Regions from separate parts of the Homo sapiens genome. Here region 2 is linked to region 1. Evidence: fine-mapped expression QTL. A gene starts in region 1. The other region holds a variant in brackets. All regions are shown on one strand. Distances are between the middles of the regions.

What was found. PIP is the estimated chance that this variant, and not a neighbour inherited with it, causes the effect.
Region 2: its variant is fine-mapped to the expression of ZNF491 in T cells (TOPMed, PIP 0.99).

What each region holds. Positions count from the first base shown.
Region 1 is chr19:11,796,130-11,801,503 of GRCh38, reverse strand. It overlaps ZNF491 (zinc finger protein 491), which reads right to left and starts at 2,981. Exons shown (of 3, transcript NM_152356.4): 1 at 2,777-2,981. RefSeq lists enhancers at 2,720-2,879, 2,890-2,989, 3,215-3,726 and a silencer at 3,820-3,989.
Region 2 is chr19:11,568,813-11,574,186 of GRCh38, reverse strand. No RefSeq gene overlaps it. Among named protein-coding and RNA genes, the nearest start is that of ACP5, 6.1 kb to the left of the region's middle. The variant A/G (reference allele first, on the strand shown) is at 2,753.

The sequences.
Region 1 (5,374 bases):
TTTGTATTTTTAGTAAAGACAGGGTTTCACTATGTTGGCCAGGCTGGTCTTGAACTCCTGACCTCATGATCCACCCGCCTCAGCCTCCCAAAGTGCTGAGATTATAGGCATGAGCCACCACATCCAGCCAAGCAATGGATTTTAATGACATTTCTCCCAGACATACACAAATGGCCAACAAACACATGAAAAGATGATCAATGTCAAGAATCAGCCATGGAGTTTTACCCAATGTCATTTTGGGTAGTTACTGAATAGTTTCCTCTCATAAAAAATATTCATAAACAAAATATAATTTTTTTCTTTTTAAAATTTTATTTATTTATTTAATAGAGACGGGGTCTCTCTATGTTGCTGAGCTGGTCTTAAACTTCTGGACTCAAGTGATCCTCCCACCTCGGCCTGCCAAAGTGCTGGGATTACAGGTGTAAGCCAGCATGCCAAGCCCTAAAGTTTTTGTTTTTTTGAGGAAAATTTTCACCCTGTCTCCCAGGCTGGAGTGCAGTGGTGCCCTCAAGGCTCACTGCAGCCTTGGATCTTCGGGGCTCAAGCGATCCTCCCGCCTTAGTCTCCCGAGTATAGTAGCTGAGACTACAGGAATATGACACCATGCCCAGCTATTTTGTTTGGTTGTTTTCAGTAGAGATGAGATCTTGCTATGTTGCCCTGCCCACTCTGGTCTTGAACTCCTAGGCTCAAGCAATCCTCCCACCTGGGCCTCTGAAAGTGCTGGGATTACAGGAGTGAGTCACTGTGCCTGGACTAAAATTTTTAAAAAATGTTTTCTTTCCCGTGTCTCTACTAAAAATACAAAAATCTGCCGGGCATGTCGGCACATGCCTGTAATCCCAGCTACTTGGGAGGCTGAGGCAGGGGAATCGCTTGAACCCAGGAGGCCGAGGTTGCAGTGAGCCAAGATAGCACCATTGCACTCCAGCCTGGGCAACAGACACAGTGAGACTGTCTCAAAAAAAAAAAAAAAAAAAAAGTTTTCCTTATTTTCAGAGGTGTTGATAACATTTTTAAATAGTGCTATTCATTTGTCTGTGGAAAAATGATAAAATATGGCAGCTGTTTCAAATGTAGCATGGGAAACACATAATTGATAAGGATGTCAATTGGCGAGGGGAAGTTGGTGTTTTTGAATGTGAGGAGAAAACCAGAAATTTAGGGATTTACTGTCATACCTGGGAAGAACTAGGCTGGGAGAGGGGTCCCAAAAACTCCCTCTTTGATCAAACTAGTCAGGCTCCTCAGAGCCCCCCTCTTCTTGAGTAGACTTTGGCCTTTTCCTGCAGAGCCCTGTGGTAGCAAAAACCCTTCTAAGGGAGTTTAGAGAAAATTCCCCCAAACCTGATATCCAATCAAGTCCCTTTTCCCTACGTTTGACAATCTCTTCCCTAATTCTTGACACTAAACCAACTTCCATCCTCTCCCTCACCTTGCCTATTAGCTGTAAATTCAATACTGTCGTTGATGCAGCCTTCACCTCCTGGGCTCAAGCAATTCTCCTGCCTCAGCCTCCAGACTAACTACAGAAGCGGCCATCATACCTGACTAATTTTTTTTTTTTTTAACAGAGTCTCGCTCTGTCGCCAGGCTGGAGTGCAGTGGCACCATCTCGGCTCACGCAACCTCCGCCTCCTGCGTTCAAGCGATTGTCTTGCCTCAGCCTCCCGAGTAGCCGGATTACAGGCACGTGCCACCACGCCCAGCTAATTTTTGTATTTTTGGTAGAGTCGGGGTTTCACCATGTTGGCCAGGATGGTCTCGAATTCCTGACCTCGTCATCCGCCCGCCTCGGCCTCCCAAAGTGCTGGGATTGTAGACGTGAGCCACCGCGCCCGGCCATACCCGACTAATTTTTTAAAATATTTTGTACAGACGGGGTCTCGCCATGTTGTCCACGCTGGCATCACCTTGCCTTACGCTGGAATGTTAAATATACTCTTTTAAATTGGAAAGGAAATGAAACCCAAATGTAAAGAAAAAAAAAAAAAAGCTCTATGGGGGCGGGGGGAGGGGGGCGGGCCAAACTCTGATTAAATTGTTGTGCCTCACAAACTAGCCTTGTATAAAAAACGTTGTAATCCTGTTAAATTTCTTGCCTATATAAGCAAGAACTTAAACTTTTAAATTTGAAACACTGAGCCCATTTCCGTGGATCCTGTGTTTTCCCAAATGGGCCATTCCCAGCTTCTTGCTTGAGTAAACTTTAAAAAACTGGAATCTGATTCTTTTATTTCAGGTTGACAAGTCCACATACGGCGACAGCATCACTGTAACTAATCAAGTATTTAATCCTGTTTGCCTCCTCATGCAACTTATAAAAGCCTTTTCTTCAATCACAAGCCATGACCGGGTGTTTCTCACTCGGAATCGCTGTTGCTCCAACAAACTCTTTAACTGTTAACAGAGCCTCAGTTTAATTTTTAGCAGAAGAAAGGCGGGACACATCCGACCCCCCATGACCCTCCCGTGGCCCCCGCACAATCTGGGAAGACGCCGGGCTGCGGGCGCGGAGCTGCCCAGAGAGGACTCCGGGGCCGGGGCCGCAGTCGCCGCGTAGGGACGGGACAGGACGCCCGGGGTCCCAGCTGCGGGCCCAGCCCCACCTGGCGGCCGAGCGGACCGAGGGCCAAGCCACGCCATGGGGGACGCGGGTCCCAATCGCCGGGGTCGCCCGAGCGGAGGCCTGGGTCCCGCCACAGCAGGATCCTGTTGGTTCCACCCAGCCCCTCTTCCACGTATCTGGACGCTAGGCCGGGCACTTTACCATTTCCCTGCTTCTTGGTGTCCCGGCGTCCTCTTTATGACTCCGGAGCAGGTCACAGCGCAGGTGACAGCGTCACAGGAGCCGTGGCGGAGGCACCTGGGGCCTCTCGGAGCAGCAAGGACTGGATGCAGAACGCAACGGACCCCAGCAACAAAGGAGTGCAGAGACTCTGAGTGCGGCCTTCTGCTTCCCCGGATTGACAGTTGGCAGGGCCCCGTCCCAGGGCCCCTGATTGGATGGGGTTCCAGGCTCCGCCCCTCAGCCCTGAGTGACAGGGTAAGCCCTGGGTAACGGAGCCCTGCAGAGCCCGGCTGATTAATCCTAGCTACAGCCTTTCTAAGGCTAAGCTCACTCCCTGCGCCCTGGTCGTTGGCTATCTGCATTTCAGCCAAACTTGCTACTTATTGTTAGAAGGGGCACTGTTAGCTTCCTCGATCTTTCAGAAATGTGTGCTGGGAATTCCAGACTCGGTGTTCAATGGAGTCATTCCTTTGCCTCATAGCAGGAAGGAAATCCAGGCCAGGCCAGGCCAGGCAAGACTGCACCAGGAGGGAGAGGCAGGTGTCCTCTACAGGGCGGGAATTGGGGATGAGACTTCCTCACACTCCCCCCGTCCCACCCCTGAATATGGAACCGCTTCCTCCCCCTAGACTTCATTTTCACCAGCAGAAGTTCTCACCTGGGGTCAGTTTAAGCTTCTAACCTAAGTAAACTATTACCTTCACAAACCCTTTCTCCAGGTGACATGTCAGACAAATCTTACTGAGCCTGATCTTCACAGATTATCTTTGTATGTACAAATTACAGTCTGTCGCCGGGACCCTTTGCACGTAAAAACCAAACACTGCCCCCGCAAAACGTCCCTAGGCTCTAGGTACAGCCCCAGTAAGGACAGAACCTCCCCCCAACCCCCCTACACAAAGTGCACCTGCACGTGAGTCTCCTGCTTTCCAGGGCTCTGTAGCTTCTCAGGATCCACATTCCTTCCGCAGCTGTTCTGAGCAGCTGGAGGCCACCTGCAGTAGAGGGCAGGCTGCCCGGGAAACACCCAGGGGAGCTCCCTTTCCCTCCCTTTGCCGGCTCCAGACTGGCCTCAGCAGGGTGTCACTGGCCTTAGGCTCTGCTGCCCCCTACAGGTTATTCACTTCATTGATCGGTTACCTGAGACAAACACCCTCAGTTCCACTGTACGTATGTATAAAGTGGGGAAGGAAAATTCTAAGATAATTGAAGTGAATTAAAAGACTTGCAGGCAGGGTGCGGGGGCTCACGCCTATAATCCCAACCCTTTTGGAGGCTGAAGCGGGAGGACTGCTTGAACCCAGGAGTTCATCATCCTGGAAAACGGAGCCACACCTCGTCTGTACTAAAAATTTAAAAATTAGCAGTGCGTGGTGTCCTGAACCTGTAGTCCCAGCTACTCGGGAGGCTGAGGTGGGAAGATCTTGAGCCCAGGAGTTTGAAGCTTCAGTGACCTATGATCTCGCCACTGTGCTTCAGCAAGAGTTGTGATAGTTGTATCAGATAAAATAGACTTTAAATAAAAAACAGTACAAAAAGACAAAGAAGATCATGAGATACTGATAACAGAATCAATTCAGCAAGATAATATAGTAATACTAAATATATATGCATCCAACATTGGAGAGGCCAAATTAATAAAGCAAATATTTCTAGACCTAAAGAAAGATATAGATAGCAATACAATAATAGTATGGGACTTCAGCACCTCACACACAGTAGTAGATATATCATCAAGACAGACAATCAACAAAAAAATTGGACTTAAGTTGGACTTTGGACCAAATGGAGCTAACAGACGTTTACAGAACCCAACAACTGCAGAATATACATTCTTCTCATCAGTACGTGAAACATTCTCCAAGGTAGACCATATGTTAGGCCACAAAACTAGTCTCGACAAATTTTAAAGTCAAAATCATTTCAAGCATCTTCTCAGACTGCTGAATAAAACTAAAAATCAATACCAAGAGGAACTTTGAAAACTGTATAAATACATGGAAATTAAACAATGTGCTCCTGAATGATCTCTGAGTCAAAGAAGAAATAAAAACAGAAAATAAAAATTTTGTTTGAAATGAACAAAAATGGCAACACAACATATCAAAACCTCTGGGATATAGGAAAAGTCATGCTAAGAGGGAAGTTTATAGAATTATATGCCTCTGTCAAAAAAGTAACAAATTAACAACCTAACATGGTACCCCATGGAACTAGGAAAACAAGAACAAAACAAATCCAAAGTTGGCAGAAAAGAAATAACAAAGATCAGAGCAGAATTAAACAAAATCAAGACTAAAAAACAACACAAATGATAAACGAAACAAAAAGTTGGTTCTTTGAAAATATCAACAAAAGTAATAAACTGCTGGCTAGACTAACCAAGAAAAAAAAGAAGATTCAAATGAACAAAACCAGAATTGAAAAAGAAGACATTACACCAATACCACAGAAATACCATCAGAGACTACTATGAACAACTATATGCTCACAACCTAGAAAACCTATAGGTTTTTTTGAAACGTATAACCTCCCAGGATTGAACCAAGAAGAAACAGATATCCTGAATAGACCAAT
Region 2 (5,374 bases), 230 kb after region 1:
TCTGTAATCCCAGCACTTTGGGAGGCCAAAGCGGGTGGATTATTTGAGGTCAGGAGTTCAAGATCAGCCTGGCCAGCATAGTGAAACCCCATGTCCACTAAAAATACAAAAAGTTAGTCAGGCTTGCTGGCGAGTGCCTGTAATCCCAGCTACTTGGGAGTCTGAGGCAGGAGAATCACTTGCATCTGGGAGGTGGAGGCTGCAGTGAGTCAAGATTGCGCCACTGCACTCCAGCCTGGGCAACAAGAGTTAAACTCTGCCTGAAAAAAAAAAATTGGCCAGTTGTGGTGGCAGGAGCCTATGGTCCTAGCTACTCAGGAGGCTGAGGCAGGAGAATTGCTTGAACCCAGGAGGCGGAGGTTGCAATGAGCTGAGATTGTGCCACTGTACTCCAGCCTGGGTGACAGAGCAAGAATCTGTCTCAAAAAAAATAAGTAAATAAAATAGGCCAGGCACGATGGCTCACACCTGTAATGCCAGCACTTTGCAAGGCCTAGGTGGTCGGATCACTTGAGGTCAGAAGTTCAAGACCAGCCTGGCCATCATGGTGAAACCCCATCTCTACTAAAAATACAAAACTTATCTAGGCGTGGTGACACATGACTGTAATCCCAGCTACTTGGGAGGCTGAGGCGAGAGAATCACTTGAGCCTAGGGGGTTTGCGGGTAAAGGGGGTGGAGAGGTGAGGGCGGAGATTGCAGTGAGCTGAGATTGTGCCACTGCACTCCAGCCTGGGTGATAGAGCAAGACTCTGTCTCAAAAAAAAAATTAATTCAATAAAATCCAAGCAGAAAGAAGGGTACAACATAAAGCAAGTCTTCCTCCACCCCAGGGGCAACTAATATTAATCATTTTCTTTCTCTATATAGTCTATGCCTCCATAATCAAAACATTCCCTTTATTATTTTCTTTTTTTTTTCTTTTTTTTTTTTTTTGAGATGGAGTCTCACTCTGTCACCAGGCTGGAGTGCAGTGGCGTGAGCTCGGCTCGCTGAAACCTCCAACTCCCAGATTCAAGCAATTCTCCTGGCTCAGCCTCCTGAGTAGCTGGGATTATAGGCACGCGCCACCACGCCCAGCTAATTTTTTTTTTTTTTTTTTTTTTTTTTGAGATGGAGTCTTGCTCTGTCGCCCAGGCTGGAGTGCAGCGGCGTGATCTCGGCTCACTGCAAGCTCTGCCTCCCGGGTTCACACCATTCTCCTGCCTCAGCCTCCCAAGTAGCTGGGATTACAGGCGTCTGCCACCACACCCGGCTCGTTTTTTGTATTTTTAAATAGAGATGGGGTTTCATCGTGTTAGCCAGGATGGTCTCAATCTCCTGACCTCGTGATCCGCCTGCCTCAGCCTCCCAAAGTGCTGGGATTACAGGAGTGAGCCACCGCGCCTGGCAATTTTTGTATTTTTAGTAGAGATGGGGTTTCACCATGTTGGCCAGGATGGTCCCAATCTCCTGACCTCATGACCTGCCCGCCTCAGCCTCCCAAAGTGTTGGGATTACAGGCGTGAGCCGCCGTGCCCGGCCTATTATTTCTTTAGGGAGAGGGGTCTTGCTATATTGTCCAGGCTGGAGTGCAGTGGTGCAATCATAGCTCCCTGCAGCCTCAAACTCCTGGGCTCAAGAAATCCTCCCACCCTAGCCTCTCAAGTAGCTAGGACTACAGGCACGCACCACCACTCCTAACTAATTTTTAGATTTTTTTTTTTTGTAGAGATGGGAGTCTTGTTCTGTTGCCCAAACCGGTCTTGTACTCCTGGGCTCAAGCAATCCTCCTGCCTCAGCCTCCGAAAGTGTTGGGATTACAGGCATGAGCTATTGCTTCCAGACTGTTTTTCAGAGACAGAGTTTTGCTATGTTGCCCAGGCTGGTCTTGAGCTCCTGGGCTCAAGTGATCCATCTCAGCCTCCCGAGTAGATGAGATTACAGGGGCATGCCACTGCAAACACATTCCCATTTTTTACACCAAAAGCAACACAATATACACATAGTTCTGCACACATTCCCGTTACTGCACTCCACTTTTTTTTTTTTCTTTTTTGAGATGGAGTCTCACTCTGTCACCCAGGCTGGAGTACATGGGTGTAATGTTGGCTCACTGCAACCTCCATCTCCTGGGTTCAACCGATTAAGCAATTCTCCTGCCTCAGCCTCCCAGGTAGCTGGGATTACAGGCCCCCACCACCATGCCTGGCTAATTTTGTATTTTTAGTAGAGACGGCATTTCACCATGTTGGTCAGGCTGGTCTTGAACTCCTGACCTCAGGTGATTCACCTGCCTTGGCCTCCCAAAGTGCTGGGATTACAGGCATGAGCCACTGTGCCCAGTCCTGAATTGTTTCTTGCATAAGATCCAAGAATGCTCTCTTGGGGTCTGGATCGAGACCCCTTTCCTGTAACACTTCGAACAATTTTGCAATCCTCAATGTCATAACAAATGACCTTGTCTACGCATTACCTATGGGGCAGACATGTTTGCAGGATTCCCAGGAACAAGGAAAAAGATCGCACTTCTTTTTGACAGCCACGAAGCTTCTGCCTTATGTCACTGGCTCCTTGCTAGTGCCCCTTGCAGGATTTTATTGGTTTTGGGGGTTGTTTTGAGAGACAGAATCTTGCTCTGTCACTCAGACTAGAGTGCAATGGCAGGATCATAGCTCACTGCAGCCTCAAATTCACAGGGTCAGGTGATCCTCCTGCCTCAACCTCCCAAAGTGCTGGGATTGCAGGCGTGAGCCAAAGTGCCAAAGTGCTC[A/G]GCCTCATTGAGGTTTTTTTTTTGAGATGGAGTCTCACTCCATCAGCCAGGCTGGAGTGCAGTGGCACGATCTTGGCTCACTGCAACCTCCGCCTCCCGGGTTCAAGCAATTCTCTGCCTCAGCCTCCCAAGTAGCTGGGACTACAAGCACACGCCACCATGCCCAGCTAATTTTTGTATTTCTAGTAGAGATGGGGTTTCGCCATCTTTGCCAAGCTGGTCTTGAACTCCTGACCTCATGATCCACCCACCTCGGCCTCTCAAAGTGCTGGGATTACAGGCGTGAGCCACCGCACCCAGCCGTGGTCTTTTTAAATCTTTCCTTCTAGGCCAGGCATGGTGGCTCACACCTGTAATCCCAACACTTTCAGAGGCCGAGGCAGGTGGATCACCTGAGGTCAGGAGTTTGAGACCAGCCTGACCAATATAGTGAAACCCCGTCTCTACTAAAAATACAAAAATTAGCTGGGCATGGTGGCGTGTGCTTGTAGTCCCAGCTACTTGGGAGGCTGAGGCAGAGAATTGCTTGAACCCGGGAGGCGGAGGTTGCAGTGAGCCGATATGACGCCACTGCACTCCAGACTGAGCAACAGAGCGAGACTCTTTCTCAAAATACATAAATAAATAAATAATTGTTTCCCTCTTACCAACAAGGCTGCAGTGGTGGTCCCTGGACCAATGCTGTGAAAGTAATGTGTAAGAAAACTTCTAGAAGGAGAATTATCTCAGGGCTGGGCACAGTGGCTCACACCTGTAATCCCAGCACTTTGAGAGGCTGAGGCAGGCAGATCACTTGAGGTCAGGAGTTGGAGACCAGCCTGGCCAACATGGTGAAACCCCATCCCTACTAAAAATACAAAAAATTAGCTGGGTATGGTGGCACGTGCCTGTAATCCCAGCTACTGAGGCTGATGCAGGAGAATCGCTTGAACCCAGGAGGCAGAGGTTGCAGTGAGCCGAGATCACACCACTGCAATCCAGCCTGGGAAACAGAATGAGACTCCGTTTCAGGGGAAAAAAAAAAAAAAAAAAATCTCAGGGCCTGTTTTTCTTATACTGAAAGCAGAGTGCTAGACCTGATGTGACAGTTGCAGGGGAGCCCAGTTCCCCTCTGAGGGAGAGTTAAGTAACACCCACCCCCAGGCAACCCAGGCCATTAGCGCTAGGCAAGGCACAGGAACCCCTCCTTTGGCCCACCCTCAACCGCCACTTGCAACTGCTACACGGCAGGGACCCAGTTGTTTGGCTCCAGCTGCCTGCCTAGCGGAGTGAAATGAATCTGGACAAAATGTAAACAGGGCTGAGTGCAGTGGCTCATGCCTGTAATCCCAGCACTTTGGTAGGTAGGGGCAGGCAGATCACTTGAGGACAGGAGTTCAAGACCAGCCTGGCCAATATGGCAAAAACCCACCTCTACTAAAAAATACAAAAGAATGAGTCAGGCCTGGTGATGCATGCCTATAATCCCAGCTATTTGGGAGGCTGAGGCATGAGAATCGTTCTTGTCTGGGAAGTGGAGGCTGCAGTGAGCTGTGATCACGCCACTGCACTCCAGTTTGGGAGACTATCTCAAAAAAAAAAAAAAGTAACTGAGGTTACTTCTGGGGAGAGGCACTTGGTGAAATTGTCACCTTTCATTTGTTATTTTACTTATTTTTTTTTTTTTGAGAAGAAGTTTCCCTCTTGCTGTCCAGGCTGGAGTGCAGTGACGTGATCTCAGCTCACAGCAACCTCTGCCTCCCAGATTCAAGCGATTCTCCTGCCTCAGCCTCCTGAGTAGCTGGGATTACAGGCATGCGCCACCACGCCTGGTTAATTTTGTATTTTTTAGTAGAGACAGGGTTTCTCCATGTTGGTCAGGCTGATCTTGAATTCCCGACCTCAGGTGATCCACCCGCCTAGGCCTCCCAAAGTGCTGAGATTACAGGCATGAGCTACTGCTCCGGCTTATTTGTTACTTTGCGCGCGCGCGTGTGTGTGTGTGTGTGTGTGTGTGTGTGTGTGTGTATCTTGGTATAATTTGCTACTTTATAGATGTCAATACTGTTGAATTTGTTACAAGGTGTATGTGTTACTGTTACAATTTTTTGGTTTTTTTTGAAACAGTGTCTCACTCTGTTGCCCAGGCTGGAGTGCAATGGTGTAATCATAGCTCACTGCAGTTTCCACCTCCTGAGCTCAAGGGATCCTCCTGCCTCTGCCTCCTGAGTGGCTGGGACCACAGCTTCACCCCACCACTCTTGGTTAATTTTGTGTGTGTGTGTTTTGTAGAGATGGGGTCTTGCTATGTTGCCTAGGCTGGTCTCAAACTCCTGACCTCAAGTGATTCTTCCTCCTTAGCCTCCCAAAATGCAGGATTACAGGTGTGAGCCATCATGTCTGGCCAACTGTTATAATTAAGCAGTGATCTTTCCAAAATGCAATCCTGGCCAGGGGTGGTGGCTCACACCTGTAATCCCAACACTTTGGGAGGCTGAGGCGGGCAGATCACTTGAGATCAGGAGTTCGAGACCAGCCTGATCAACATGGCAAAACGCTGTCTCCATTAAAAATACAAAAATTAGCTGGCATTGTGGCGGGCGCCTGTAATTCCAGCTACTCAGGAGGCTGAGACAGGAGAAT